Linked DNA regions of Homo sapiens. The protein of the gene in region 2 purifies or fractionates together with the protein of the main gene of each other region. This does not show direct contact. Each region holds a gene or a part of one and is shown on either strand. Other genes may lie near its edges. The genes, in order: ANKRD17, FGF17 and NOL12.

Region 1 (11,079 bases), on a different chromosome or scaffold from region 2:
AAGCAAGAAAAGAAAAAAAAAAAGCTGTAAGCTGTTCTTCAATTCCTAAGATTTAATTTTGTGGAGTTCTATCGGGGTCACAAATGAGATTTCAGTGTTGGAACACATTTTTTGCTATACATTGTGTTCATATATTACATTCTTATTTTAAAAAGTATTTCCTTAAGTTTGAATATTGATCTAAATAAAATTTATGAATATTTAGTTTCTGCTAATTTCATATATGTGTATAAACACATTTCTTAATCTATATAACAGGGATGACTAGAACTTGCTATCTACTTGGTAGAGGATGTTGGGGGAAGTAGTTGTCAATTTTAAAGCCCAATGCAAAAGAAAAGTGTTACTACTAATGTATAGGTACTGTTTATACAACATTGTGATTATTTTGTATCTTTTGTTTCAGAGTACAGTACAAAATGATCTACAACTATTGAGTGGACCAACTGAAATCATTTGTCAATCCTCTTTGCAAATGAACTTGTGCAATGTATTAAAACATTTTTAAAGGTTCAACATTTATAATTAGCTTATTCCAGTCTTTGATATTAGTGTTATGTCAGTTAATTTCTCAACTTTAAATTCCTTAAGAAGAGACTACGTATTACATTTTCTTTCTGCAGTCTCTGTAATTCTTAACCATCATGGTGCCAAACACAGGAATGGAGCTTGCTATGGACTGAATATTTTTGTCCTCCCCAGATTCTTTTTTGAAACCCCAAGGTGATGGTATTTGGAGGTAATTCGTCTTAAGGGTAGAGCTCTTGAATTGGGTAAGTGCCCTCATAGGAAGAAACAAGGCTGGGCATGGTGGTTTACACCTGTAAATCCCTGTGCTTTGGGAAGCTGAGTGGGGAGGATCACATGAACCTAGGAGTTTGAGGTTGTAGTGAGCTATGATCATGCCACTGCACTCCAGCCTGGGTGACAGAGATCCTGTCTCTTGGAAAAGACAAAAGCAAGATGACCTTTTTCTGCCCTACACAAAGAAACTGAAAAGGAAACAGCCATCTGCAAACCAGAGAAAAGGCCCTCAACAGAAACCATAAAGGCTGGCATGTTGACGTTAGACATTGTAGCTCTCAGAACTGTGAGAAACACATTCTGTTAATCTCCTCAGTCAACAGTATTTTTGTTGTAGTAGCCTGAATTAAGTGCTGAAAATTTGAATATGGGGTGTAATTATCATGTAATCATTTAGTCTTCTCTTTTCCCAAATATGCCTTCTGAAATGTTTGTCAAACTAAATGACTGTAGCTTACTAGGGTATATATAAAACAACAACAAAACACCTTTAAGAAATAAACTATTTCCATGAGCAATTGTTAGTGATCCCTTAGAATCAGATTAAGATTTCAGTTTTTCTTTCTTACTTAAGGCACTACTTCTCAAAACCAAAGCTACCTAATTTAGAATTGGCTTTTTTCTCTTTATTGAAAGACATCCCCTTGCCATCTTTCTTATTATTGGTTTTCAAGCATTGAAAATGCAAAGTTGGCTTTTGTTTTTCAGAAGTGTGAATCCATTTAAAAGCAGAAGTATAATATGCAACCTCCTACACCACAGATATTAGGTTTGTACTTTGTTACGTTACAAAGGTATTCTGTCAAAGCCACAGTAGCACATTTTCTTTTACACTTATCCAAAATTCAAGTGATATTTTTGCAATCAAGGTGTGCAACACATTAAGACTTATTAAAGCACTGATAATGCTCCCATCTTAAATTCCAGTCACCTGAGTTAATCAAATGCTGTGACTTAAGCAAGCATTTATCAATAGTATATGTATTTCCAAAGACATTAAGGAACATTCGGAATTTAGTGTCAAGGACAGCAAACATTAAAAGTGTAAGATATCTGCATAGATTCATTTACGTAAGTAAAATATACTGAGAATGGAATACTGAATTTCTGCTTATAGTGATTAAAAGCAGTGACTTGGTTGTTCTTTGCTATTTTAATCATTTTGAAATAATCCTGATTTTAAAATCTGTTATTAAAACAATGTTTTGGTACACTTTAAATGTTCTGTAATGCCAGATCTGTGGGAATAAGTGTTGTGAAAAACATCAACATGAAAATAGATTTAATAAACTAGAGGATCTGAAGAGATTTTATAACTTTGAGTTTTCCTGTTTAGTCTAACACTGTACTGTTTTAAAAATAAGTAATATAGGGTACAAAATTTTTACAAAATGTGTATTTAGGTTATTTGAGTCAAAACACGGATGGACTATTATTTTTGTGAAGAACAAGACAGGATTAGTTAATAAGCTATTTACCTTTTCCAAAGGAGAAAAATGACTATACGTAGTCATTTACAAAAAAATTAATTTTCATGTATCAATAAAAATGACTTGACTTTTCAGTAATGGGAAATAGGAGGGGAAATTTCTTCTTTATAAACAGTGAAGTCAGTGTTTGTAAATATGTTGATTATGTTGAAATGTATGTTGAAAAGGCATGAAATGTGGAATTTTGTTGGGAATGGATGGTATAAACTGATTATACAATAATTGAGATATTAACTACTTGGGGATTTAAGGTGTGAACTAACCCAAGTGTAATGTCCAAGAGTTAAATCATTTCTTAAAACAATGATGTAGTCTGCATATACACATACCACATATTTTCAAAATTAAAAAATAAAAGACCTTCATGGTCTCAAAAAGTTATGGGTTTTTTTATTGTTCAAATAAAAGTGCACTGCATTACATCTGAAATATAAAAAATGTATTTTAAAAATGTTCCTAGTACAGACTTCTAAAACCATGGTATTGTACTAAACAAGCCTGATCCCCAAGACTAAATACGGAGCATTTCAATCTATATCCCCTGGCCCCACAGGTTTGAAGTCAAGAAAATATAGGAGTTTTCCCCCTCCTTTTTAAATAAAATACCTCACCTAAGAAATTCAGTATTGTGAAACAACACAACTCATGTGTTGTAATAAATATTGGATAGCATCTGTTCTCCAGCAGGATTACCTTAAATAGAAAATAACCCTAGTTAACACAGGAAAGAATTAAGAAAAAAAATTTTATGTATAGAATAGTGGCAAGTCATATATAAAATACTTCGTTAAATAACATTATTACATCCCTTTTTTAGTAAAGTGCTATAATTTTATTTCATAGCTATATTTATTTGTAGGCTGTCTTTTAGCTCTCCCTTTAAATTTGGGCATATTAAACATAGGTGGAAAAACAAATTTATATATTTTAAGACCACTTCTTAAACTAAAAGATATGAGTGTACTGTTTACAAATTTCTGGATATGTTTGAGAAGTCATCTTTTTACTCTTTACTCAGGCTTTACTCTTTACTCAGATGGAAGAAATCATTTGATTTACTTGACAACCAAGGAACCATGTTAATATCATCAACTCTAGGTGATTTATATGAATTTTAGTTAGTTTTTATGTTTTACCAGTGTGAAATTTTATGTCTAATTAAAAAAAAAGAAGACAAATTGATATATACATTACTCGATTTTTATGCTTACTTTCTTTTACATTTCAACCATATAATTAATTTTTCCATGAGACAGGGTAGGACACATAATCTTCTTGGATACATTACTGTTTATTGTTTCAAGTGGATGGAATATATAAATCCCACTGAGTAGTTTAGTGTGGCCTTGTATCTTTTATAAACAGGTTAAATGGAGACTTTACACTGTAATCTGTGTATTTATCTGTCTACCATAAATTGTCTTCGTGACAAATGCAGAATTTCTTTTATTACTTGGCTCAAATTAACTGTTGATCCTTTTCACTGATAATATACAAGGGTAAAAAAGCAGGAAGCCTTTAAAATTGAAAAAAGAAATAAGATATTTTCCACTAAATTACTGAAAATTGAAATTTTTATGTTGACTGTTGATGACTGAAAAGCCAATGTTAAGAATCAATATCATCCAATATAAAATAGTACATTGAATTATTTAATAAACAGAATATTAAGAGCTTGTATATGCTGACTGGGAACAGTGGTGGCTTTTTAAATTCTCAGAAAGTTTAAACATTTTATAATTAGAAGAAACCACTGGTGATGATGAAGATGGTCCATCTCTGTAGCAGCCATTACAGTGAAAATCTTGACAGAACCTTTTCACTATCAGAAAGATAATTTTACTGGTATTAGTGGTAAAGGTAAGGAGAGAAAAAGGAGTGAGGAGATAAGTCTGTATTAGTTTTAAAAGTGAGAAAAGGTAATAAAACAACATGGAAAAGCCAGAAATTTCTTCTTCTATATGTGCCTTGCTACAAATAAACCAAAAAGAAAGCAAGATGGGTATTTTAAAAGCCAATGTGGGGAAACATCCAATGATAATGCCCATTATTTTACTTTATACTTAAATTACACCAGTAGAAAAGTTATGCTTATTAATAGTTTAATGTATGAAGGAAACATCCAGATTTCTGAATATGAAGGTACATATCTCACATTAATTTAAGTCTACATAAAGTAGAGCCTCTATACTGACATATTGAAATTTACTTTCTGCTTAGCCTTTTCTGTTATGTAAACAATTGTACATTTATTTGCCATTCTAAAACTTCAGGATCAAGTTTACATAATTTTGCTAAATTTCCGTGTTTGCTCAGAAGCAGTTTACAGTACTAAAACCAACCAGCCAAAGAACAGCTTCAACAGAAAGTTATGTCCAAAGGGGAAGAGGGAAAGAAAAAAAGAAAAATGATAAGAAAAATGCTAACTAAGGTAAAACGGATGATGATGGGGAATGGGCAGTCACAAATGTTCACAGAAAATAGGTCAGTTAGTAAGATCTTCTGCAAAAAGCCTACACACTTCAGTCAAGCACATCAGTAGAATGATTTGGGAGCATAATTTTTTTTTTCGGCCACTTGTGATTTCCTCCAAATGAAAAGGAATCTGCAGGCTAACAAGCTGATCCTCATCAGCCAAGCTGGTTCATATGCACACTGTTCATGTGAGGTGCCCAGGGTCCAGTCCACACCTATGAATATAGAGCATGCATTTTACAAAATATATATCTAGCATATATTTTATTAAAATAAAACTTTTAAAAAACTAAGGAGGTACTCTTCAATTTGCAATATACTAGGAACTAATGGAAAAAAATGATAAAAACCTTTTTTCTATTATTTTCCTACCTCTTATCCCTCAAACAGAATCTGATTTACAACCTTTAAAAAAAAAATCATTACCTGAGCATTTATAGATTCACGGTTGTGGAAGAAAAATAAATCAAAGATATTAAACATACACTAAACTAAAATATACAACCATTTATGTGAATTCTCAGAGTTATTTATAGTACCTTTAATAAATAACCTTTAGATGGTCTTTTCACACCACTAGTAAACTTTAATGTATAAAATCATATGACAGTCACTTTGCAACTTAAAATCTTTCATTTATTATCTGCTACCCAGTAGAATATACAATACCTTTCATAATTTTAGCCCCAAACCTGCCTTTGGTACCACTGCCCACAGCCCTCTGCTATATTGCAGCTATATTAGATTTCCTCAACTGCCCATATTCACCAAACTCTCTTGCTATCATGAGTTACCTGAATCCTATTTGTCTTTGCATTTCTTAAACACAAAACAACTGTTTATTCACTGAATGATCAGCCTCACCGTTTGAGGGCCATTATTTTCCGTGGAGCTGGAAACCATCTTTATCAGTGAGTTCCAAGAAGGGTCTGCAGCATGAGGGCCATTAAATATGGGTCCTCCAGCACCATCAGGGATAGGTGCTACTGGAGGAATCATTGCATTCCCATACACAGAAAAAGGCATACCCTTAAAAAAGGAAAACACACACATTAACATCCAAGTCATTGTTCATTTTTCCCAATATAATCAATAGCCTTAAAATTGATATTTGAAAGTTCACCTCATCCTGGGAATGTGTAACTTATCTAAGAAATCTAAAAATTATTACCCATTATATAACTTATTTTAACATTAGATTATACATATGCCTACTATATTCAAAACATTTTCTCAGAAAATCCTCCCTTAAATAACTAGTACAAAATCAGGACTTTACCCCAACTTTAGGAAAGTCCATGTAGCCTGCAGGAACATGCTGATGGAATGTACCAGAAGGAGTTACAATTCCTGTACTATCTCGCTCCATTGCTTGATGTTGTGAAAATACTCCTGGGTCAGACATCGGTCTGTGGATCATAGGATTTCCCATCCCAGGGTTACACCAGTCTACTTTGTCTGAGGGCAAACAAAGAGGCAAAACAAAAATAGATAATATTTAAAATCAAAATCAAATATTTTGTTTTTCTAATATTTTCCACATTGAACCGTAAATTATTTCAATATAATGACCTACTTTTATATATTTACAGCAATATTTCCATGGTTTGTAAGTAGTGACATAATAGCTTAATGAAATAATCTAAAAACTTGGTGTTATAAAACAAAAGAAAAAAACCTAAGTACAACCTAAAGGGACTGAAAGGAAATATTATTATGTCCTTAATATGATGAAAGGAAGAAAAGAACATGCTTGCATTAGATATTTTCTGAAAGCAGTAATAAATACATGTAATGAGAAAGGTCACATGGGGACAGAGCTCATAAAGAAGTGATTAAATATTCACATAACAAAAAAAATAGGAATACAGATCTTTTAGAAATGACTACGAGGCTGGGCGTGGTGGCTCATGCCTGTAATGCCAGCACTTTGGGAGGCTGAGGTGGGTGAGTCACTTGAAGTCAGGAGTTTGATACCAGCCTGATCAACATGGTGAAACCCTGTCTCTACTAAAAATACAGGCGGGGCACAGTGGCTCACGCCTGTAATCCCAGCACTTTGGGAGACCGAGGCGGGCGGATCACAAGGTCAGGAGATCGTGACCATCCTGGCTAACACGGTGAAACCCCGTCTCTACTAAAAATACAAAAATTAGCCGGGCGTGGTGGCGGGCGCCTGTAGTCTCAGCTACTTGGGAGGATGAGGCAGGAGAATGGCATGAACCCGGGAGGCGGAGCTTGCAGTGAGCAGAGATTGTGCCGCTGCAGTCCGGCCTGGGTTACAGAGCGAGACTCCGTCTCAAAAAAAAAAAATTAGCTGGGCATGGTGGCGCATGCCTGTAATCCCAGCTACTTGGGAGGCTGTGGCAGGAGAATCGCTTGAACCGGGGAGGTGGAGGTTGCAGTGAACCAAGATCACCCCATTGCACTCCAGCCTGAGCAACAAGTGAAACTCCATCTCAAAAAAAGAAAAAAAAAAAGGAAATGACTATTAAAGTTAAATACTGTTTACATTATAGTTAAATGCATTAAGTTAATTTCTAGAGAGCAGGACAGAATATCCTACCTTGATTGCCACCAATCCCTTCAAAGGACCAGATGCCACTATGTCCTACTGATGTAGACAAATTGCTCCCAATAACAGATGGAGCTGACGTTCCAGTTTGCCTGATACGTGCAGAACGTTCAGTCCCAATAGGGACTGGAACTTTCCTGTCCTGAGACACATTGCTGGGCTTTTCTGACCCTAACGGTACTGATGATGGGGCAGGAGATGGTGCACGAACTCCCGAGGATACTGACTGTGCAGAAGAATCTAGAGAAGAGATATTTTGAAATAAAATACAGGTCATCTATAGAACATGTAATTTTATAAAACCAAATCTTAAAACCAGGAGATGTTTTAAATATATATTCTCAGAAAAACAAAGTGTAAAAATAATACTTAAAAATGATGCATATTAAAATTTGGCTAAAGTTCCATGACTTCAAGGTAGAATATGATGTCAATGCTGCAAAATGTTCAACTACAAAGGTAATAAACCATTAAATTAAATAATATTCAAATGAATTAACCCTTGACATTAAGTAAAATGTAGCAAGCAATAAGACATTTAAATTAAAAAACAAACCAACAACAACAGAATGGAGATGGGTAAGAATCACTGCCTGTAGTGGCAATCTCCAAACTGTATTCCCTGGGAATACTTGCTCTTTGTGTTATGATGAAAAAGAGATTCAGCTATCTAATAAATTTGGAAAACCTAGCCTAGGAAAAAGAAATACGTTTCTTTGTTATTTATTCATTTTTTATTTATTTTATTTATGTATTTTTGGAGACAGAGTCTTGCTCCATTGTCCAGGCTAGAGTGCAGAGGCTCGATCATAACTCACTGCAGCCTCAAACTCTTGGGCTCAAGCGATCCTCCCACCCCAACCTCCTGAACAGCTGGGACTACTGGGATGAGCCATCATGTCCAGTTTAAAAAAAAAAAGTTTCTTCAAATTAGAACTGAAGTTTATAGAACATTATATATACTGATAAAATACCAATAAGAGGATCATTGCCTAAGTCTGTTTTATTTTATCTTGTGAGTACTTCACAGAACATGCTTTTGGTAATGAGAATCTTTTTTACTTATGCAAACAAGGTGGATTTCTTGATTTGAGACTATTCATTAGTGATTCAATCTCTATACATTATTGAGAAAAAACAAAAATAACCAAAATTATATTTTATGTGAAAAGCTTAAATATTGGCCGGGCGCGGTGGCACACACCTGTAATCACAGCACTTTGGGAGGCCAAGGCGGGCGGATCATGGGATCAGGAGTTCGAGGGGCCAATATGGTGATACCCTGTCTCTACTAAAAATACAAAAATTAGCCGGGCGTGGTGGCACGCGCCTGTAGTCCCAGCTACTCAGGAGGCTGAGGCAGACGAATCACTTGAACCCGGGAGGCGGAGGATGCAGTGAGCCGAGATCGTGTCACTGCACTCCAGCCTGGGTGACAGAGCAAGATGACTCCATCCCCCCTCCCCCTCCCAAAAAAGCTTAAATATTAAAGCACATTTAAACTAAAATGGTATAAATAATAAAGGAGTCTGAAGCTTAAAAATCAAAACTGTTACCTGCAGATTCAACAGAACTGCAGTTGAATTCCAAATAAGCCTATTATATAAGATAAAAGAGAAAGACCTATAGCATTCCTGTTGACAATAAAAGCACTCCAGAAAAAAAGCTATAACCTAAAATTCAAAAATGAACGAAAAGAAAATGATATGAAGGAACAGCATAATTCAGAATTAGTAAAACGGAAACAATATGACAAAACTCAGGAAAGTGTTAGAAGTAAAAGAATATTTTAGCTAAAGACCAAATAAAACCAAATTCTGCAATTATACATGCAGTAGAAAACAGACAAAAACTACAAGGAATACACAGACATGTAAATGTAAACACAAAGATAAATAACAAAAGCTTGTTTTTTAAAAACCTACATATTGAAAGGCCACACCTAAACCTCTAGGAAAAATCAACCCAGAACAACTAACATCAAGACATAGTCAGGGCAGGCAGGCAGGAAGGAAAGAAGGATAAACAAATGAATCCTGCTTTCCCCTAGGTTCATCCCTGGGAGCCTACCTTAACCTCTGTGTTCACTCTGGTTTCCCTTTTATTTCCTGTATCCTTCTAGAACCAAAGTAGAGCAAAATAACAACAACCTTCCACATTGTTTTGTTTTTTATGAGACGGTCTCACTATGATGCCCACACTGAAGTACAGTGACTATTCACAGGCACAATCACAGTGCACTGCAGCCTCAAACTCCTGGCCTCAAGCCATCCTCCCACCTCAGCCTCCTACACATTCTATTTTAATAAACAGAATTACTAGGCTTGCCCGCTGAGCTGCGCCATTTAAGAAGTTTACTCTCTGCACAGATTCTGCCACCCCTCTAGTCATAGTTTTTATCAGATGACCCTGTTTTCTGCTCCCTCTCTGCACAACTATTGGATTAAGGATAGGCACCCATCCAAGTTTTATTTTAGGCTAGTCAGTAATCTGACTGAAATGGTCTGACTTGAACATATGAGCTGAGCCAATCACATTCCTCATCAAAGAATGGGGAATTAAAGGGTTAACTGGTTTAATTAATTATGAAGTTGAACCACTGATGTGCATATACAAGGTAAGATTATGAAGAAGTTTAGGTGTAAAGAGAGCAGAATGCAAGAAACTGACAAGAAACAGACCATGAGTGAGAGACCACAAATCCTCTAAGAGAGAGAGAGAGAGAGAATAGCTATCCCTAAGTCCTGGACGGTTTGGAAAATGGTTCTGCATAGCCTTATATAAACATCATTTTCCATGAGAGTCCCTGGATGGGCCTATATTCCTTTTCATGAAAAGAACCTAACTAAAATAATTTTCACATCTCTAATTATTATAATTACTTCAATTAGAAAAAAAGCAAAATTTAATTCAGAGCCATGTTATTTAAAAACATCAGCTTATATATTAGAGAAACAGGTTTCAGAGGATGGGGCAGATCTAGGTTTTGTGGGGCCTTAAACTTACAAAATTTTGGGAACCTTTTTTAGAAGAATGAAAAATTACAAATAAAAAAATCATGTACAGCACTTGGAAGTACCCCATAAAATGAAGTGGCCTAAGGATTTAAGTTTCACTGATACCACGGTAACTTCACCACAGTTTAGAAATGATAACAGAGTCCTGAGTTAAAATTGAAAGAGCAATGTGATTTACAAATTCAAAAAGTGGGGCCACTGGGTGTGGTGGCTCACACCTGCAATCCCAACACTTTGGGAGGCCCAGGTGGGCAGATCACTTGAGGCCAGGAGTTTGAGATCAGGCTGGGCAACGTGGTAAAACCTCATCTCTACAAAAAAAAATTTAACAAATTAGCCAAGCATGGTGGTGCACACCTGTAGTCCCAGCTACTTGAGAAGCTGAGGCAGGAAGATTGCTTGAGCCCAGAAGGTGGAGGTTACAGTGAGCCAAGATTGTGCCACTACATTCCAGCCTGGGCAACAGAGAGATACATTATCTTTTTATTTAAAAAAAAAAAAAAAAAAAGGGGGGCCAAGCGTGGTGGCTCACATCTGTAATCTCAGCATCTCTGCATTTTGGGAGGCTAAAGTGGGAGGATCTCTGGAGATCAGGAGTTCAAGTCCAGTCTGGGCAACATGGTAAGACCTCATCTTACAAAAAATAAATACATAAAAATAAAATAAAAACATTAGCTGGGTGCTATGGCAAGTGCCTGTAGTCCCAGCTACTTGGGAG
Region 2 (11,272 bases):
GCACCGGCCTGCCCCTTCCCAGCTGGGGGCTCGGATGCTTCGCGGCCCTCAGGGTCCTCCCTCGGGGATCTGGCTCCCCTCCCGCCACCCCAGCCCAGTCCTTGGATTAAGAAGGGAAAGGGGTGGGGAGGCGGCCCAGGGGCTGCTGCCCCCTGCCTCCCAGACTACGTGAGGGGCTGGGGCCGCCGTGTGCGCTTGGTCCGGCGGGTGGGGGCGGAGCCCACAAACTCGAACTGCTTCTGCTTCTCGGCGTGGTTGGGGAAGGGCAGCTGGCCTTGGTAGAGGCGCTTGATGAAGTGGGCCTCGCGCTGGTTCTGGCGGCTGCGGGAAGCCTGGCGGGGCCGCCCCTGCCGCGTGAAGGCCATGAACCAGCCCTCGTGCCGGGCGTTCTGGAAGGCCGTATAGTTGTTCTCCAGCACGATCTCCGTGAACACGCAGTCTTTGCTCTTCCCGCTGGGCTGCGGGAGAAGCAAGGACAGGAAGGGCATTTGTCCACCTACCCTGGTCTGGGGTGTCGCCCTTACGGCCTATTTTGGACGACTGAGGAGGGACAACGGGAACAACGGGGCCGTGAGCCCAGGGAACTCTGCCTGGTGAGATGGCATCCTATTTAGAGAGGCAACAGTGGCCAACAAGAACACGCTTTGTGGATCTGAGTTGCAGGCTTGTCGTTTAGCGGTCCTGAACCAGGCTGGGCCTCAGCTTCCTGAGATGTAGGTGAAGATCAAGGACCTGCGGCATTTCCCAGCATGCACGGGCCCTTAGCACTGAAATGCTCATGCAGCCTAGGTGAGGGGTGCTGCTGGGCATGGGAGAGGAGGCAGCAGCCTCCAATGAGAAGAAAGAAGGGTGCCAGTGCAGCCACCCATCCCACTCTGTCTGCAATCAGGGGTCTGTGCCCATTTCTACAGACAAGAAGCCTGAGGCTTGACAAAGATAAGCAAACCAAAGGTTATTTGGTCAGCGACAGCCGAATGGGAAGCTGGGATTGCCTGGTTTCAAACGAAGTGGAATTCTCCCACCCAGCAGGGCCCGGCCTACCGTGTGCTTTGGTCACAGGGGCAGCTGCTTAGTGTCTATCTTGCTAGCTGGAGCCCACTGGCCCCACTGAACTTGGGGGAGTTCCTGTCTTACATCTGTGCCCCACTTTCCACCCTCAACAGCTCTTAGTCCTCCACCCAGAGGCTGCAGTGTCAGGTAGATGCTAAGCTCTTACTGATGCCTGCTGGAGAAATACTCCTGACATCAGCCCCACAGATCCCAGTGGCTTGCCAGTCCCCTCAGAGGGCTAATAGAGTCCCGGGGACTCATTTAAATAGAGAAACCAGGCCGGGCTCCGTGGCTCACGCCTGTAATCCCAGCACTTTGGGAGGCTGAGGTGGGAGGATCGCTTTAGCCCGTGAGTTTGAGACCAGCCAGGGCAACATAGTGAGGCCCTATCTCTACAAAAAAAAAAAAAAAAATTAGCTGGGCATGGTGGCATGCACCTATAGTGCCAGCTACTACTTCAGAGGCTGAGGCGAGAGGATTGCTTGAGCCCAGGAGTACAAAGCTGCAGTGGGCTATGATTGTGCCACTGCACTCCAGCCTAGGTAGCAGAGCAAGACCCGGACTCTAAAATAAAAACCAGAGAGTGGCCCAGTGGGTGGGCTGAGAGTAGGATGGGAAGTCTTTACACAGGAGGGTGTGTGGCTCAGAGGAGAGAGGGGAGCATGATGCCCTATATGTCCCCACCCCAGTAGGGCTGATTCTCTGTTACTTCCCAGTCTCCCAGCCTCACCTTCCCGATGAGCTTGCCCCTCTTGTTCATACAGATGTACTTCTCACTCTCAGCCCCTTTGATGCGAACCCGGCTGCCAAACGTGTCCGTCTCCACTATGAGCTTGGCTGTGGTGGGGGAGGGGAGAAAGACCTCCGTCCATCGGGGCTGCCGGCCTATGGCTACAGCAGGGGACCACCCAGCCACACTGACCTCCAGACTCAGGCGAAGGGGTTGGGGACACTCAGGCCCTTGGGGCCCTCAGCCCTGACACAGGATCTGGGGATGGACCAGGAGGTGAGGCAGGGTGGAAGTGAGGCAGAGTGGAGGTGTGGGTGCCCTGGGGGGAGGGCCAACTCTCACCAAACTTGTTGCCGTCCTCGGCGGTGGCGGAGATGCGACGCCCGGTGACCTGCACGTGCTTGCCACTGGTCCTGCTGTAGAGTTGGTACTCGCGGATCTGCCGCCTGCTCAGCTGGTCGGTCATGGCGCCCTGGTCCCTCACGTACTGGTTAAAATTAGGAGACGGGTGATTCTCCCCCTTTGCGGTTACCAAGGGAAAAATAGTGTCAATTTGCTTTGGGTGACACCACCACTGGTCCATCCAAGGGAGAGGGGTGAGGAGGTGAATATAGTGGGGACAGGCCACTTGTCCTGCAGAGTGAAGTGGGCATATGGCCATAGCCTTCCCAGGCCCCTGGGTGAGCCGGTCATAACCTCTTTGCTTTGCGTCTACCTTACAGAAGGGACTGGGGTCTGCCCAGGCTGGGGGACACTTATTGACAGAGCACAGCCCTGGAATCAGGACTCTGGGAGCTGGAAGGAGCCCTCAGGGTTCTATCCCGTCCTCGTATTCTATGAAGGAGGTGCACGGGGCACACAGCTCATTAGGGACAGAACCCCTGTCCCTACCTCTTAGACCAGAGCCTGTCATCTCCCCCAGAACTCCAAGGACATGCTCCATTAGCCAGGACAACCAGATTCCTTCCTCATCCTCCCCACTGGCCTTGAAAGACCCCTTGCCCAGCACACGGGCACAGAGCAGATGGTGCTGCGAGTTAGGGTCACCAGAGAGCATGTGGGGGACTCTGAAAGCTCCTGCAGGGTCCCATGAGCATTTCTTTGAAGCACTAACTGTGGAATCCTGAGCTCATACCCATCTTCTTCCCGGCCTTGCCCCCTGGTGCTCAGGGCCCTTCCAGTGTTCCTCCCTCCTCTATGGGCTGGAGCTGGGGCTGGGGCTGGGGCTGGGCACTATGGGACAGCAGGCAGGCAAGGTGCCTCCTTAGCGGAGGGAGGCAGAGGCAGTACCAAGAGGACAGGCACTATCAGCGGTGGCCCAATGGCTGCCCCTGGCAGGCAGCTCCTTAGCCACAATGTAACAGAGGCTCCTGGCCAGTTGGTGGGATGCGCCCGCCCACCTGCTTCCCCTTTGGGTTGGGGGAGAGGAACCATTTCCCCCCACGCACTGTGCAAAGCCAGGAGGAGTACCGCCTCCCAGCTAGGTCTCTCGTTACCCATCTGTAAGGCTGAGTGGGAGAGACTGAGTACTTCTTCCCCTCCATCCTGCAAGGTGCGACCCGGGCTAGGTTTCCTGGCTCCTGGCAACAGCCTCAGCTCTAGCATGAGAATGTACCTTTTTTGCTGGTTTTGTCTCCACCTGGATGCCGCTGCCTGTGCTGGGACAGCTTTTCTCAGCCCCTGCCCCAAATCCCTAATTCCACCTTTATCCCAGGCCCAACCTCAGCCATCTGGACAGAGCTAGACCCAGATTAGCATCTGTTAGGGGCTACTCTCTCCTAGGGAGGGGGTGGGAAATATCACCTTTGAGGCAGGGGGAGTGAGGGAGCAGCTCTCAGAGCTGGACATTTAACCTGCGCGGGGTTAACACTTACTGTGCACCGTTGCTCATTTCCAATTGCACCTCCCCATAGAGCAGCCTCTGCCTAGCCTCTGCAAGACCTGCCCCTCGCCCCACCCTGGAGCATTTGGGGTGGGGGACCTGCCCAGCCTGCCCCACGCTGGCCTCCCTTCCAGGGGGTGGGGTCCTGCCTATCCCAGCCCCGCCTCCTGGCCCAGGTTCAGGCCCTCCGCCCCTCTTGGCCGACGGCCTCCTCTGGCAGTCTGTTCCAGGTCAGGAGCAGAAAGCGCCCCCCCGAAGCCCCCTCCTTTCCTCGTCCCCCTTCAAGCTTTTCACAAAAGCAGCCCCACGCCCCCCCACAGCCCACAACCCACAAGTCCCTCTCCCCGCGGGACCTAGCCTGTCCCTTTCATGTTCCCGCTGCGGGAGGACCTCCCCTTCCACCACTGCAGACAGCTGCTTGTCAGACAGCCCCTCAAGCATGGCTGTGGTCCGGCCTGCTGGCCCCCCCTCCCAGGGGGGTGAGGGGGCACTTCAAGGGGGAAAGGACCGCTTTGCCACCTTCCCTGAGTCCTGAATGGGGCCTCAGCCAGGCCATAAACGCCCGGCCAGCCGCACCATTGTGCTAGTTCCCCTCCAGAACAGGTTGGGCCCACCCCCAGCCCCCTCCCAGCCAGGCTGGGGGCTTTCTTCTGGCTCCCCCTGGATGTGTGAAGCAAAAGGCCTGGAACGGGGCTGGAGCAAAAGGGGGAAGGAAGGGGGGGGGAATTGTCTCTCCCTCTCCCACCCCCCCACTGCTTCAAAGGCTGCCCCTTTCCCTCTCCCAGAGAAAAGGCATTTACCTTCAAAAAAAGTCCCCACTGGATATGAAGAGAAGCGGGCCTCTGGCCTGGGAAAGCCAAGCGATCTCTCCCCAGAGCGGTTCTGGACCAGTGCATTTTAATAGCTGCACTTTTATGGAGGATCACAAAAAAGGGAGCAAGCCTCGCACTGGGGGCTGAGACTTGGGGGTGGGAGGTGTGCATGGAGGGAGGTGGGGGGCCGACTTGGGGTGGGGGGAGTGTGGAGAAGCGAACCCTGCATCCCGTCCCAAACAAACCTCTTTGGGCTTGACCTCTGTGCCCTCTAGGTGAGGAGTCACCTCACCCTGGCCAGGCATTCTGGACATGCTCACGAGACCCCCACCCCAGGCATCCATATTGATGGGAGTGGGGTGGCGAGAAGGACATACAAGTGGTCTTGCATCAAAACCTGTCCTTTCAGGTACTGGCAAACCCAAGCCTCACCTGAGCCATCACCTCCACCTGCTTCCAACCGCTCCAGGCTCCATCCCTCAAGTCTGGGGGAACCCGATGGAGAGGGAGGAAGAGGAGCAGAGACCCAGGGGAAGTGGGGAGGGTCCTCAGAGGGAGGACAGAGACAAAACCTCAGTCAGCCCCCTTCCCTGCCCACCCGGTCAAAGGCTCACTCCCCTCCAAACCTCAGTGCCTCCTGGACCCAGGGAGAGGCCAGACTCTGCCTCTGTCCACCTGAAAGGAGCCGGTCCCTTGCACCCGCCCTGGTCAGGTAGGGTGGAAAAATTGGGGGAAAGCCGGTGGGAATGCCCGCCTACCTGAGTTTGACAGCAGAGAATCAGCAGCTGTAAGCACCTGTGTGGGGAGAGGAGGTAAGCCCAGGTGTGGGTGCCAGCTGCAAGCCTAGGGTGCACCCAGGCCCCCGCCCCCGCCCTGCCAGCCCCGTGCACGCACGCGTGGGAGTCCCGGGAAGAGGAGGGCTGCCCTGAGGCTGGAAATGGCAACGAAACTCCAGTGGGAGAGGTAGCACACTTACAGAGTGAGGTTGGGCAGCAGGCGGGCGGCTCCCATCGCTGGAGAGGTTCCTCAGGCGGTTGCCCCCCTGCCCCCAAGCTCAGGAGCAGATGTGGGAAGTCCCCAGGGGTAGAGTCCCAGAGAAGCCAAGGTCTCTCCGAGCCACAGGTTTTCAGGGGGGCGAGGAGGAGAGAAAGGGGAGGAGGAGGAGAGAAAAGAGGGAGGAGGAGGGGGAGGAGGAGGGCGTAATTGGGAGACTGAGGTATGAGGTGTCCACCTTCCTGGCCAGTGAGGCTGCAAAGCAGATGCGGGTGGGGGCGTGCGCGCTGTGCCCTCTGGGCTGCCAGTCTCTCCTGGGCCACCCAGTGCAGGGATGGAGCGGTGGGGGCCTTCTGAAGGAGGTGGCCCTGCTGTCTCCTGCTCTATTCCTGACCCTCACAGACTGGCCAAACTCGACGCAGACAAACTCGATGTGTGGCAGGTCAGGGAGGGGGAGCCCTTCCAGGTCTGCGTCTCCTGCACTCAGGTCTGGCGCCCCACCTCCCCAAGGGTGAGCCGCAGGTGTCAAGTGGGGCTGGGGTCTCTGGTTCTGGCTCTGGAGTGGAAATTCCCAGAAGCAGCCTTAAAAGGAGCCGCCTCCCTCCAGGGGGCAGGGGTGGGCTTGGCTTGGAGCAGCTGATTGCCCGGGAAGGAGGGGTTAAGGCTGTCCTGATCGGCAGCAAATACTGGGCGCAACAGGTTGGGGGTCAGAGGTGGGTTGGCAGGTACAGATGGAGATCTAGGAAGAATCCCAATGGAGAGTTGCAAAAGCTAGCCTGAGACAGACACTTGGAGAAGAGCTGGGTGTCCTGGCCTAAGCCCCTTTTCCTTGGGCCTCTGTAGTTCCATCTGAGAAATGAGGACAGTAATGCCTCAGGGTGTTGGGGGGTCAAGTGTGAAATCAGCACATAGCAGACTTCAAGATGTCTGTGTTCTGAGACCCAGCTCCACTCACCATTCTGCATCCCCTTCCTTCCAGTGCCTGTCCCTAGAGCCTCTCTGAGCTAGGAGCAGCTCGGAGTCCCCTCCCTGTGTCCCATGTCCCTGAGCAGCTGCCTGGGATGAAGTGCCTACCAGCCTCTTCCCATGACCTCCGGTCTCATACTGCTCGGTACAATGCCAGCGACTAGCCCATTTTGCAGATGAGGAAACTGAGGCACATTGGGAGGTAGTTTGCTCAGAATGGCCCAGCTAGTGAATGGAATAGCCAGAATGGAAAAGTCCATGCTTCTTCTGTTCTGCATGGATTGAGTTGCCACCCTGCAGATCCAGCCCCAAACCTGCTTCATTGTAGGGATACAGAAGCCTTCCTGGGTTTTCAGGATTAAAGGTGGAATCCGAGGTCCTGGAGACCGGTGAACAGAGAGCTCCATGCTGTTCCCTCCCTACAGAAAAGTGGATGACGGTGACTGCAGAAGATAGGAGGGCTTGGGGGTCTCTGAGGGAAGACCCAGTGTGAGCAAGCAGAGCTCAGGCCTCAGCTCTGGGCTCCCTGGAGTTCTCAGCGCCCCCAGGGTGGGAAGGGAAGGGGAAGTGGCGGATGTGGATTTATTTACCTAAAGAGATGACCAGGGGAGCGAAACTCTCACCTGTGGGTCCCTTCTCACCTTCCTGAGCTCCATCAATCCACAAAGTGGTCTGCCACCCCTGCCCCCATGCACTGACCAGTGCAGGCAGCTCCGGGGTCTCCTCTCCGCAGGCTCTTCCTCGGGAACCCAGCCCAGGAGTGGGTGCTGCCTGAGCTTGTGTGGGGAGGATGGGGCAAGCCCTGGCCTTGCTTACCTGGGGGAGTCCAGGGTTTTGGAATGCAACTCAAAGAATGTCAAACCTAGAAGGGGTCTTAGGGATTCATCATTTGTTCCAACTTCCTCATTCCTTGGATGAGAGCCAGAGAGGGCAAGGGACTCGCCCAAAGCCTCACAGCTAGCTGGTGGCATGGCTGGGACAAGGTACCAGGTGCCCGCGTGCCCACCTCTCTGCTTTCCCCCTGCGGATCCTTCAGGTCACTTCTGTTCCGCGTTCTTCCCATCATCTGCAGTCTGGGTTACACTCTGCCTCTTCTGGCAGCTCTGGCTCATTCCCTGAGAAACCTTCAACCTCACATCCACATCCTCACCACTCCCAGCCCCCAGGCAGGGCATTAAAGAGAGCACAGACACGTGGAGGGGACAGCTCAGGCCTTGGGTTGGTGGAGGTGTCAGCTGGGGGGCGAAAGGTGGGTAACGGTTCCAATTTATGCTGTCGGGACTCACTGGCCATGGGGACAGTGGGAGCCACTCAAGGCCTCTGAGCCCAAGCACCTGTTTCTATCCATGGGGACAGGGCCTGCCATCACTGGCCCAGCCCTCAGGCCAGCCTGGGTCTCCATGGTAACAGATGCCAGCAGTCAAGCTGGGCCTCGGGGCTTAGCCAGGGGGTTAGCTCTGGGCATGGCTGGATGGCCTGTGTCACAGGCAAGACAGCTGTGGCTCCTTGTCCCTTCCTGTTGGGCACCTGCAGGCCTGGCCTTCTAACTTGGTTTGCTCCTTTACGCCCATGGGGAAGCCAGTGGTGGGCCCCAAGTGGGGAGGCAGCATGGAGCCCTTGATTTTATCCCCGCCCCTTTGCCCTGGTCCTTATACGCTGTGTGACCTGTGGCAAGTCCCTTCACTTCTCTGGTTTCAGGGTCCCAGTTTATAAAAAGGAAATGGCTACCAGCAGGGATACTGTCAAAACCACCGCCATCCACGTCAGCTGAGATAAAGGACTCACAGAAACGCATCAAGTGCCACAAGAATGGGGGCAGGGGCCCTTTTTGTGGCTTAGCCTCAGTTGACCTAAACTGTCAGACTCTCTCCCTTGACTGGAGTGAGCTCGGGGAAAGGGGGAGGGAAGAAGGGTGGGGTTTATTAACATTCATTGCTGGGGGGGTGGGGTTCAGGAGGTGATAAGGGAACTGAGAAGTAGCCTGGGCTGCTGTGGTTAATCCTCACCCCATAGTGCCAAGTTCAACACCCCCCAGCTGGGGTCGTCTCACGCCTGCCTCTCCTAACAGCCCAGCTGGTGCAAACACAGAGCCCACCTGCAGGTCAGCCACTTGCCACCACCTGCTTGAGCCCAGCCCACCCTCTTCCTGCTGAAAAACAGAAGAGTTGGGGCAGGGGAAGGGCAAAGGGCAGAGGGCAAAGGGCACCCTAGCAATGAGGATGGACCCTCACCTTTGCAAATTTTTCTTTTTTGAGACGGAGTTTCATTCTTGTTGTTCAGGCTGGAGTGCAATGGCGCGATCTCAGCTCACTGCAACCTCTGCTTCCTGGGTTCAAATGATTCTCATGCCTTAGCCTCCCAAGTAGCTGGGATTACAGGTGCCCGCCACCACACCCAGCTAATTTTGTATTTTTAGTAGAGACGGGGTTTCTCCGTGTTGGTCAGGCTGGTCTCAAACTCCCGACCTCAAGTGATCTGCCCACCTTGGCCTCCCAAAGTGCTGGGATTATAGGCATGAGCCACTGCATCCGGCCTCCACCTTTGCAATTTATTTCCTACTGCCTGCTTGCAAATCAAAATCAAGTGATCACTGGTTTATCTGTTGCGCGCCTTCTTGTGCTTGGGGCCAAATATGCGCTTGGCTGTAGAAACGCCTAGCTGTCCCTTGAGGACTCCCATTACATGGTTGACTGACTTCTAACTCCTGCTCTCAGTTTACACGACTTCATAAACTGTGCACCGGCTCATGCCTCCCTCCCATCAGCAGAGTGGTCAAAATCCAGGGCTCTGGGGTGGGACTCCCTGGCTCCTCTGCCAGCCGTGTCACCTTGGGGCAACTTGTCTAACCTCTCTGTGCCACACTTTCCTCATCTGGGAAATGGGGCTGGGCCAGGTGTGGTGGCTCACACCTGTAATCCCAGCACTTTGGGAGGCCGATAGAAGGATAGTGTGAGGTCAGGAGTTTGAGACTAGCCTGGGCCACATAGTGAGATCCCCATCTCTACAAAAATGTTAAAAAAAAATGAGCTGGGTATAGTGGTGCATGCCTGTAGTCCCAGCTACTTGAGGGGGCTGAAGCAGGAGGATAGGCGGAGCCCAGAGTTCGAGGCTGCAGTAAGCCATGATCGTGCCACTACACTCCAACCTGGCTGACAGAGTGTGACCCAGTATCTAAAAAAAAAATTAAAAAGAGAAAGAAATGGAGCCAGTCACAATCCCCTTAAGGCACGGTTATGAGGGTTGAAGGAGTGGGTCGTGGGTATTAGAAGCTGTCACTGCAGCCGATCCCCCTTCAAGTGGGGCTCTGCCTCGGACCCTTTGCATGCTCTGTTCCTGTTCCCAGGAACGTCCTCTGCCAGCTCCTAATGAAGCCCATTGAGCCCTTCTTGTCCGTTGCCTCCTCCAGGAGACCTTCTCACCAAACTGCTTCCTCCTGCCCCTCAAGTTCACCTGTTCCACTCCCTTCAAAGCACCAGACAGTAACTGAAATTGTGTTGGGTTTTGTTTCCACTAGACTGTAAGTGACTTGAAGGTGAGGAATTGGGTTACCCCGGGTCACTGTAGATGAAACCAAGTTCAAAAAGCACCAGCTGCTCACATGGAGCAGTCCCCCTTGTCACTCTCTGGGTGACCTGAAGTTAGTGGTTTGTCCCTTTGTTGGAGGGTGGGACTCTGGGTGACCTAAAGTTAGTGGCTTGTCTGTTGGAGGGCAGGACAGCACCCACATCTGTCTCATGGGTGTAGGAAACATGCAGGGAGAATGCCACCCTGGGTGGGTGCAGTGGCTGACGTCTGTAATCCCAGCATTTTGGGAGGCTGAGGCAGGAGGATCTCTTGAGCCCAGGAGTTGGAGACTGGCCTGGGCAACTTAACAAGACCCCCCATCTCTACAAAAAATTTTAAAATTTGTTTTGGTGTGGTGGCTCGTGCCTGTAGTTCCAGCACTTTGGGAGGTTGAGGTGGGAGGATTGCTTGAGTCCAGGAGGTCGAGGCTGCCGTGAGCTAAGACTGTGCCACTGCCCTCCAGCCTCGGTGACAGAGTGAGACCCGGTCTCTAAAAAAAATAAAAATTAAAAAAAAAATGAATACAACCCTGCCCTCTGCTACCTCTGTCTCTGGTCTCAAAAGAAGCTATAGCTGGACAGGAGGCCCCAGCCTGGTTGTTGACTTTCCTAGGCAGGTGTTCAAAGAGCTCCGACCTCCTGGGCCCCATACCTGGGGGTACTAAGCAGGACAGCAGGACCAGCTCCCCACTGGTTCACTTCGGGCCTGACCCCAGAGGGTGCTGGGGAGGGGCAGGGAGAAGCCAGCAGAGGCGCTGCATGGATAACCCAGAGTGTAGGGCTCATCTGTGTGTCCGCCTGTTCTAGGAACTGCGCCAGGGTCACCCACAGGTGAACAGCCCTCCAGAGTCCCCTCTGCACACCAGGGAGAGGGTGGGGGTCCCCCACCCCATTTTCCAGTCCTCTCTTGGCCTCGCCCCTATGCTTGACTGAGGCCTACTCGATAGCATGTGGGGCTTGGCGCCTCTGTAAAGCTCACCCTGTCTACTCCACCTCAAAGGTTTTTTTGAAGGTGCGGGCCTCTGGCTCCTGCCTGACACAGATCTTCACATGTGGGAGGTCCCTATAAGATGAGCTGGCCCCTAACGGAAGCAAGCAGGGAGAGCGGATGTCCCTGAGTTCCCTATAGATGCTCTGCACACAGTAGCTGCCTGACAGGAATAAGGTCAGGAGAAGACCCTGGGGGCTGGCCCCCTAGGGCGAGGCCCCTTCTGGTAGCTTGAGCAGCCGTAGCCCTTGGGTGCCTATAAACCTAGCTCTGCCCAGAGGGAGGGTG
Region 3 (8,711 bases), on a different chromosome or scaffold from region 2:
AGTGGCTTCGACCACCCTAGCCCAGCCCAGTCCATCGGTCCGGCACACAGCAGGCGCCCAGCCGTGGTTGATAAATGATGAGCCAATGAAATGAGAGTGGCTTAAGTTCATTCATTCGCTCCCTAGACATTTATTGGGCTCCTTTGGTGTGCCAGGTCCCGTATCAGGAAGCAGAACCTCTGAGCCTCAGCGTCTGGCCAGATAAATAAATGGCACATGGTAGCGGGTCAGCGAAAAGCCCAGTGCTGGACCGTGGGACAAAATGGGAACAGAGCAGCTAGCACTGTGGAGATGAGAAGGGGCTGAGATTAGACCGAGGGAAGGAGGTAGGGAAATGCTGGGCATCATCAGGAAACTCCTAGCGTGCATCAACAGGCCCTACAGGCGAGTTTAGGGTCAGGTGTCCTGGGGACATGGGTGTTGGTCCAGTGCAGGGTTTCCGAAGGTCTGGATGGTGGTGGCCCTGAAAACCCTGTTGAGAGAGTAATGAGGTTTGTAGGTGTGGAAGGGGTTACCTCATGTACTGTGTGTGGCCCCCCCCCCCACCCGCCCCACAGCCTGGCCCTGTTGCCTGAACCTGAGATCCCTGGAGAGTATTGAGTGGAAAGAGGCAGTATCTCCCTTATTTTCCTAAATGTATCCTTTCTCTAACCTTGGGCAAGTAACCTAGACTCTGTGACTCAACGTTCCCATCTGTAAAATGGAGATTGATACCCACCGCACAGGTTATTGTGAGGGTTTTTTGTTTGTTTTTGAGATGGAGTCTGTGTCGTCCAGGCTGGAGTGCAGTGGCATGATCTCGGCTCACTGCAACCTCCGCCTCCCAGGTTCAAGCAATTCTCCCCGCTCAGCCTCCCAAGTAGCTGGGACTGCAGGCATGCGCCACCAAGCCCAGCTAATTTTTGTGTTTTTAGTAGACACGGAGTTTCACCATGTTTGCCAGGCTGGTCTTGAACTCCTGGCGTCATGTGATCTTCCCACCTCGACCTTCCAAAGTACTGGGATTACAGGCGTGAGCCACCATGCCTGGCCATTGTTGTGAAGGTTAAATGAGCTAATACTTACACTTTTTTGGAATGGTGCCTAGCACATAGTGAGCGCGGCATTAGCCATTTTTCTCCTAGAGCGAGCCCTTCTCTCCTTGTATAATGACTCTCCTGTCTCTGCCGGCTTCCTTCCTGTAGGGAGTACCTGACAGGCTTCCACAAGCGGAAGGTCGAGCGAAAGAAGGCAGCCATTGAGGAGATTAAGCAGCGGCTGAAAGAGGAGCAGAGGAAGCTTCGGGAGGAGGTACGCAGGGGGAAGGTGGGAGGGAGGTCTTTGATTCTTAGGGCACTTGCAGCCTTGGATTTCCCTAATAGAGGCAGCTGCTGGCATGGGGCGATGTGTGTGTGGGCAGGACTGGGGAATAGTTTATACAGGTGGAGACTCTGTGGGCCCGGGTCTGGGAGTGATGGAAGATGGAGTCTCCTCCTGATCTTGCAGTATGGATCATGGTCTCCCTCACCCTGGGGGTGATTAATACCCCAGCCTGAGGTTGGACTGAGAGGCCATACTCACTGTGTTCCCTGCCTGTGTGGTTTCAGCGCCACCAGGAATACTTGAAGATGCTGGCAGAGAGAGAAGAGGCTCTGGGTAAGTGGCATGCTTGGCCTGACCTGGAGAACAGCTGATGGGCCTGGTTTATACCCTTGGTGGGTGGAAGGGATAGAAGCTGACCTCCTTGGCCCTAGGGATCTTGGGGGGTACCCTGGGGCCAGGGGTGGTCCTAAGCACCTCTAAGTGCAAGTGGAACAGAGACCAGGAGAAGGAGTCCCAAACCCCATGGTTAACCAAGCCTGAGAAGAGAGCCCAGTTTTTAAGGATGGAAAGGACTAGGGGTGGAGGGGAGGGACAGCAGTAGCTGTCACAGAGGGTTTGTCTGACATGGGGACCAGCTAGAGCATGAAGGAAACGGGATCATTCACAACATTCATCCACAGACCAGGCTCTACAGCCAGTGACCTTGTGGATGCGCTCCACGTCCACAGAGTAGAGGGGGCACTGCACTCCAGGGCGGGAGGGAGGCTGGAGCCTGGTCACTCGTTCCCGTGACTGAGACCAGGTCTGTGTCCACCCCCACAGAGGAGGCAGATGAGCTGGACCGGTTGGTGACAGCAAAGACGGAGTCGGTGCAGTATGACCACCCCAACCACACAGTCACCGTGACCACCATCAGTGACCTGGACCTCTCGGGGGCCCGGCTGCTCGGGCTGACCCCACCTGAGGTGGGTCCCAGTCTCAGCCCTGGGAGGAAGGGGCGTGGGGGCAGACCAGCTTGTCAGGGTTGCTCAGTGCTGGCCCATGTCATGGGTATCCCACTGCCAGCCCTGGGAAGAAGGGGCGTGGGGGCAGACTGGCTTGTCGGGGTTGCTCAGTGCTGGCCCATGTTGTGGGTACCCCACTGCTGGGGCTCCTTCCCTTTGGACCCTTCATTCCCTGCTTCCGGGGTGCTGCAAAGACCAGCCCCACTGCTGAGCGGCTGAGGAGCTTGGGCAGGCTCCTTCACCTTGCCTGCTTCCCTTTCTCCATCAGTGAACTGGGGGTTGCTGATGGTGGCACCTGCCTTGTGGGATTGGTATGAGGGTGAAAGTGGTTAATCCATGTGAGTCACCTGGCACAGTGCCCAGCCCTGTCATAAGTGCTTCACAAAAGGTAGCCGTTTGTTGTGATCGTTCCCTTTGTGCGATTCGCAGCCCTGGCACGTCTGTGTGCACTAAGTGGGTTTTCAACCTGTGGGTTGTGAATCATGAGTAGGTTGCAATCAGCATAAAAAAAAAATATAATTGAAAATATCCGAAAGTGTCATGTTAAATATTGTTTCATGAGACAGCTGTTTCCACTGGAGTTGTATCTGGGTGTGCCTAAGGATTTATGGACATATATGCACACAATTACGATATAAAACACATTTCCTTGTGTGGGTTACTGTGTTCTTAAGTCCTGGAGCCACTCCCCTATCACATCCATACTGATCTCAGGGCCAGGCATGGTGGCTCACGCCTGTAATCCCGGCATTTTGGGAGGCCAAGGCGGGCGTTATCACCTGGGGTCAGGAGTTTGAGACCAGCCTGGCCAACATGGTGAAACCCCGTCTCTATTAAAAGTAAAAAAATTAGCCAGGGGGCCAGGCGCAGTGGCTCATGCCTGTAATCCCAGCACTTTGGGAGGCCGAGGCGGGCGAATCACCTGAGGTTGGGAGTTCGAGACCAGACTGACCAACGTGGAGAAACCCTGTCTCTACTAAAAATACAAAATTAGCTGGGTGTGGTGGGACATGCCTGTAATCCCAGCTACTCGGGAGGCTGAAGCAGGAGAATAGCTTGAACCTGGGAGGTGGAGGTTGTGGTGAGCCGAGATCGTGCCATTGCACTCCAGCCTGGGCAAAAAGAGCAAAACTCCGTCTCAAAAAAAACTTAGCCAGGCATGGTGGCGTGCACCTGTAATCCCAGCTACTCGGGAGGCTGAGGCAGGAGAATTGCTTGAACTCAGGAGGCGCAGGTTGCAGTGAGCCACGATTGTGCCACTGCACTCCAGCCTGGGTGACAGAGCGAGACTCCATCTCAAAAAACAAAACAAAACAAAACCATACTGATCTCACACCGGTCTTTCATTTTATGCTCACTATTCTGCAAGTTCTGATACAAAGACAAGTCTTGTCCCCGTTTTGCTAGGATTTTCATTCCTGAATGTTTAAGTATGTCCTGGAAGCTTCTAGGGGCAGGAAAGGGTTTGGAAACAGACCTTCCCCTGTGTAATCCTTGCTTTAGGGCAGATAGACTTCTTCCATCAGAAGCCTTCTCTAGTCCCAACCCAGGCCTGTGATGCAGCAGGGCGCGCCACCACTTGCCAGAGCCATGGTGGCTCGGGGTGCCCAGCCCAGGTCCCCCCAGCTACTGCTCCATGTAAGTCATTGTCTTGTGCCTCTTTAGGGAGGGGCTGGAGACAGGTCTGAGGAGGAGGCGTCATCCACGGAGAAACCAACCAAAGCCTTGCCCAGGAAGTCCAGAGACCCCCTGCTCTCTCAGCGGTGAGTCTTGGCCTGCTGCCTCCCCGGTCCCACCCCTCCTGGCTGGCAGTAGTGACCTGGCCCTTAGGGTGGTGTGGAGCAGGTGTAGGGCCCGGAGCAGCCCTCTGCCTGTCCAGTGATCCTCTGCCTCTCCTCATTGCCCCGTCCTGTCCCACCCACCCCTGATAGTGTCTGACCTCCAGTGCTTTTCGTGCCTGGGTGAAGGGCCTGTGTCTCTGAGCTGAGTTGCTGGCAGGCACTCTGGAGGTAGAGCAGGCCAACTCTGGCATGAACTTGGCGGTCCTGGCATTCGCAACCTGTCCTGACATCCCCTCCGTGAGCCAGGTGGTGAGTCACCCCACAATGCAATCTTAAACTGAGGCTTTCTGCCCTCCCCTAGGATCTCCTCCCTCACAGCATCACTACATGCACACAGCCGCAAAAAGGTCAAGAGGAAACATCCCCGACGGGCCCAGGACTCCAAAAAGCCCCCAAGGGCCCCTCGTACCAGCAAGGCCCAGCGCCGCCGTCTCACAGGCAAAGCACGGCACAGCGGGGAGTGAGACCGAGAACGAAGCGGTGCCCCAGTCTAGGCTGCGGGGACCTGTCCTTGCTCAGCTTGGCTGTCCCTGTAGCCCAGCCTGCACCTAGGTAATGACTGCACAGCTCAAGGTTGGGAAGCCAGGACCTCTCTGGCCTGGGGCCAGCTGCCTTTGCCTGGGGTCAGCTGCCTTTGCCTGGGGTTTGAATTCCCGAAGGAGCAGGCAGCTGAGAGCAGGCCTCCCCCAGGAAGAGCCTTCAGAGCCACGTGGGGGCATCTTCCCAAATGTGCACCCCACCTGGCACTCATCAGATTTGTGCGCTTGTGATTTGTTTGTCCTTGATACCACGCACAAGGGCAGGTTTTTGGGGTGGTGGAAATGGCCAGGGCCCATGGGTCTGTCTCCAGCAGTTAGCCCTGTGGCTGCAATAAAGTACAGTTCTCCCTGTGTTAAGATCCTAACCAGGGTTAAGGATCAGTGTGTCCGTTGCTAGAATCCAGAGCCCACCTGCTGCTCTGAAAAGCAGGCTCCTGAGGCCAGTGGGGGAGCAGTGCCCCCCATGCCCTTCACCGAGGAGCCTCTGTGCCTGTCCCTTGTCCTCGGCCCCAGGAGTCTCCTCAACTGACACTGAAGTGGTGGAAGCAGTTGAGTGCCAGGTCATCCCCCATCACCACACTGGGGCAGCGTCCCCAGGCTTCCAGCAGCTCCCAGGTGGGTCCCAACGTGGAAGGATTAATTAATTCTTTCTAAAGCAGTTGCAGCCGGGCTTGGTGGCTCACGCCTGTAATCCCAGCACTTTGGGAGGCCCAGGCGGGCAGATCACTTAAGGTCGGGAGCTCGAGACCAGCCTGGCCAACATGGTGAAACCCTGTCTCTACTAAAAATGCAAAAATTAGCCAGGTGTGGTGGCACACGCGTGTAATCCCAGCTACTTGGGAGGCTGAGGTGGAAGAATCACTTGAACCCTGGAGGCGGAGGCTGCAGTGAGCCGAGATCACGCCATTGCACTCCAGCCTGGGCAACGTTGTGACCTTGTCTCAAAAAAAAACTAAAAAATAAAGCAGTTGCATCTTGACTCGTACAAAAGTAGCCCCCACCAGAGTAGACCCTGCGGGTGCCAGCTAGAACTCCACAAGGGGCCATGTCTTCACACTCCTTCCAGATGGATGAGTTGATGGAAACCCTGTCCCTTCCTTGTCCCAGCTTGTCAGTCCTGGGCAGGAGAGAATTTCAGGTTGTGCCTTGGTTAGAGGAGCTGTGTTGGGTCCTAAACACTAGGACCACAAAGGGGAGTGAACTGTGTTCCCAGGGCTTGCTGACGCCCGTGGACTATGGAGTCAGGATGACAGGACAGTGCGGTGAGGGGCATCTGCGACAGGACTGCGGGCTCTACCCGCCCTGATGTGGGAGCTCCTGGAGTGGGGGTGAGCAGTGAGCCAGGGTCTGCAGGGCTGTCCTCTCTCCACAGCCAACAGCCAGGCCTTACAGTGGGGCAGGCTTAGTGACTGTGCCTCAGTTATGCTGTACCTGGGAGTGGGCAGGCCCTCTCCCATGTCACCATCAAAACCCACTGATGAAGGCTGGTGGGAGTCTGAGGGCTGCACCCGGGTATGGTGAGTTCCCCTCAGGGATTGTGCTGAGCGCCTTGGCCTGGCTTCTTGGCTCCGCCCACCTGCTCTCCCTGCCACCAAGTTGTCTTCCCCGGGTGGCATGTGCCACTTGGCTGCCTCGTGCCTGGGCACAGTGGTGCCTATTATGGGCCCTCCAGGTGGCTCTGGTGCTCAGCCTGCTGTGAGCAGGAACAGCTGAGTCCCAGGGGTTCTTGCACACAGCAGGGCTCGGGTTTGAATCCAGGCTCTGCTGCTTGGTCGCTGCATGAGCTTCTGCTGTGCTGACCTCTCTGGTTTGTCTCGTCATGTGTAAGGTGACACCAGATACCTACCTCTTAGGGCTGCCCCGAGACTAAAATAAGACCATGTGCATGAACCACTTACCAAAGTGCCTGTTGCTCTCCAGGTGTGCCTACCGCATGTTGCCGCTGCTGTTTCTGCTGGGACGTCTGACTCCAGTTCCTTCTCCCCTCTCCAGTGACAAGGTCATTTACAACTTACATTTACAATTTATAGTGTTTACCAGTATTAAATTCTCAGCCACTCCTTTCCATGTGTGCCTTCATTTCTTCCAGCAGACCAGGGAAGTTGAGTCACAGTGATTTGACCAATTCTAGGATCAGGGTGGTGGATTCAGAGCCCTCTGGAGAACTTGTCTTTTCTCCAGGAGCCCCTCACCATTGCTGTGGAGGCACCTGGGCTCCTTCCTCCTGTCGCTTTCCAGAGTTGGGCCTCTGAGAGATGTATGAGGAAGAGTTAAGTTTAGCTGCATATACTCTAAAACAAAATTGAAAAACAACTGGCTTGTGTAAAAGAGTTCCCATCCCAAAGATGGGAGGTTCCCAGCCTGGAGCTGGGAAGGCTGGAGGCTGGGATGCCGGGCTTCTAACTCTATGCTGTGTTCTATGTTGTGTGCCATTTTCAACACATGGCCCCTGCCTCACAGCACAAGGTGGCTGCTTGAGCTGCAGCCATTATGTCTGCATTTCAGCCAGCAGGACAGAAAAGGGGATGAAGAACATGCCCCTCCTTTTGAAAACATTTAGGGCCAGGTATGGTGGCTCACGCCTGTAATCCCAGCGCTTTGGGAGGCCAAGGCGGGTGGATCACCTGAGGTCGGGAGTTCGAGACCAGCCTGACCAACATGGAGAAACCCCTGTCTCTACTAAAAATACAAAATTAGCTGGGTGTGGTGGCGCATGCCTGTAATCCCAGCTACTCGAGAGGCTGAGCCAGGAGAATTGCTTGAACCTGGGAGGTGGAGGTTGCGGTGAGCCGAGATCATGCCATTGCCCTCCAGCCTTGGCAACAAGTGTGAAACTCCGTCTCAAAAAAAAAAAAAAAGAAAAATTGGCACTTGGCATGTCCTGTTGGCCAGGCAGGAGGCAAAGCATGAGGCAGAGGCAAGGGAGCTCTTAGCTACAAGACAGGCTAGGAACTCTTCTATTTATTTATTTTTTGAGATGTAGTATTGCTCATCATCCAGGCTGGAGTGCAATGGTACAATCTCGGCTCACTGCAACCTCTGCTCCCCGGATTCAAGCAACTCTCCTGCCTCAGCCTCCCCAGTAGCTGGGACTATAGGCACCTGCCACCACGCCTGACTAATTTTTGTGTTTTTAGTAGAGATGGGATTTTGCCACGTTGGTCAGGCTGGTCTCGAACTCTTGACCTCAGGTGATCCACCCACCGTGGCCTCCCAAAGTGCTGGGATTACAGGCATGAGCCACCCCGCCCGGCCAGGAACTCTTCTATTCTGGGAAACCAAGTGCTCAGATGAGAATTGGGGATTGTGTTAGAAAGGAGAGAATGGGGCCTGGCACAGTGGTTCGTGCCTGTAATCCCAGCACTTTGGGAGGCTGAGGTGGGCCAATCACCTGAGATCAGGTGTTTGAGACCAGCCTGGCCAACGTGGCGAAACCCGATCTCTACTAAAAATATAAAAATTAGCCAGGTGTGATGGCAGGTGCCTGTAATCCCAGCTACTTGGGAGGCTGAGATGAGAATCACTTGAACCCGAGGGCCAGAGGTTGCAGTGGGCCAAGATCACACCACTGCACTCCGGCCTGGGTGACAACAGCAAGACTCCATCTCAAAAATGAGAGAATGAGGCCAGGCGCAGTGGCTCACACCTGTAATCCCAGCATTTTGGGAGGCCAAGGCGGGCAGATCACGAGGTCAGGAGATCAAGACCGTCCTGGCTAACACGGTGAAACCCCGTCTCTACTAAAAATACAAAAAATTAGTTGGGCGTGGTGGCGGGCACCTGTAGTCCCAGCTACTTGGGAGGCTGAGGCAGGAGAATGGCATGAACCCGGGAGGCGGAGCTTGCAGTGAGCAGAGATCGCGCCACTGCACTCCAGCCTGGGCAACTGAGCGAGAATCTGTCTCAAAAAAAAAAAAAAAAAAAAAATGAGAGAATGGGTGTTGGGGTATAATCAGCAGATTATTTCACAGAAGCCAAATATATAAAGGGCTGTCATGAGGGGATCCATCTGTGTGGAGCTAAAG

The links.
Region 1: the proteins of FGF17 (region 2) and ANKRD17 purify together in Homo sapiens (co-immunoprecipitation; 2 studies listed by BioGRID and IntAct, with this or other methods). This does not show direct contact.
Region 3: the proteins of FGF17 (region 2) and NOL12 purify together in Homo sapiens (co-immunoprecipitation; 2 studies listed by BioGRID and IntAct, with this or other methods). This does not show direct contact.

Annotation. Positions count from the first base shown.
Region 1 is NC_000004.12:73,071,307-73,082,385, forward strand, and holds the end of ANKRD17 (ankyrin repeat domain-containing protein 17), read right to left. Parts: intron 7,585-11,079; coding exon 7,336-7,584; intron 6,228-7,335; coding exon 6,049-6,227; intron 5,799-6,048; coding exon 5,634-5,798; intron 4,985-5,633; coding exon 4,925-4,984; 3' UTR 2,070-4,924; downstream 1-2,069.
Region 2 is NC_000008.11:22,037,142-22,048,413, reverse strand, and holds the start of FGF17 (fibroblast growth factor 17 isoform 1 precursor), read right to left. Parts: upstream 5,595-11,272; 5' UTR 5,486-5,594; coding exon 5,451-5,485; intron 5,270-5,450; coding exon 5,233-5,269; intron 3,866-5,232; exon of another isoform or gene 2,442-3,865; coding exon of another isoform or gene 2,301-2,441; coding exon 2,123-2,300; intron 1,888-2,122; coding exon 1,781-1,887; intron 459-1,780; coding exon 165-458; 3' UTR 1-164. UniProt on the Homo sapiens protein: Plays an important role in the regulation of embryonic development and as signaling molecule in the induction and patterning of the embryonic brain. Required for normal brain development.
Region 3 is NC_000022.11:37,686,726-37,695,436, forward strand, and holds the end of NOL12 (nucleolar protein 12), read left to right. Parts: intron 1-1,184; coding exon 1,185-1,290; intron 1,291-1,586; coding exon 1,587-1,635; intron 1,636-2,124; coding exon 2,125-2,267; intron 2,268-3,971; coding exon 3,972-4,069; intron 4,070-4,448; coding exon 4,449-4,611; 3' UTR 4,612-6,749; downstream 6,750-8,711. UniProt on the Homo sapiens protein: Multifunctional RNA binding protein that plays a role in RNA metabolism and DNA maintenance. Participates in the resolution of DNA stress and the maintenance of genome integrity by localizing to sites of DNA insults.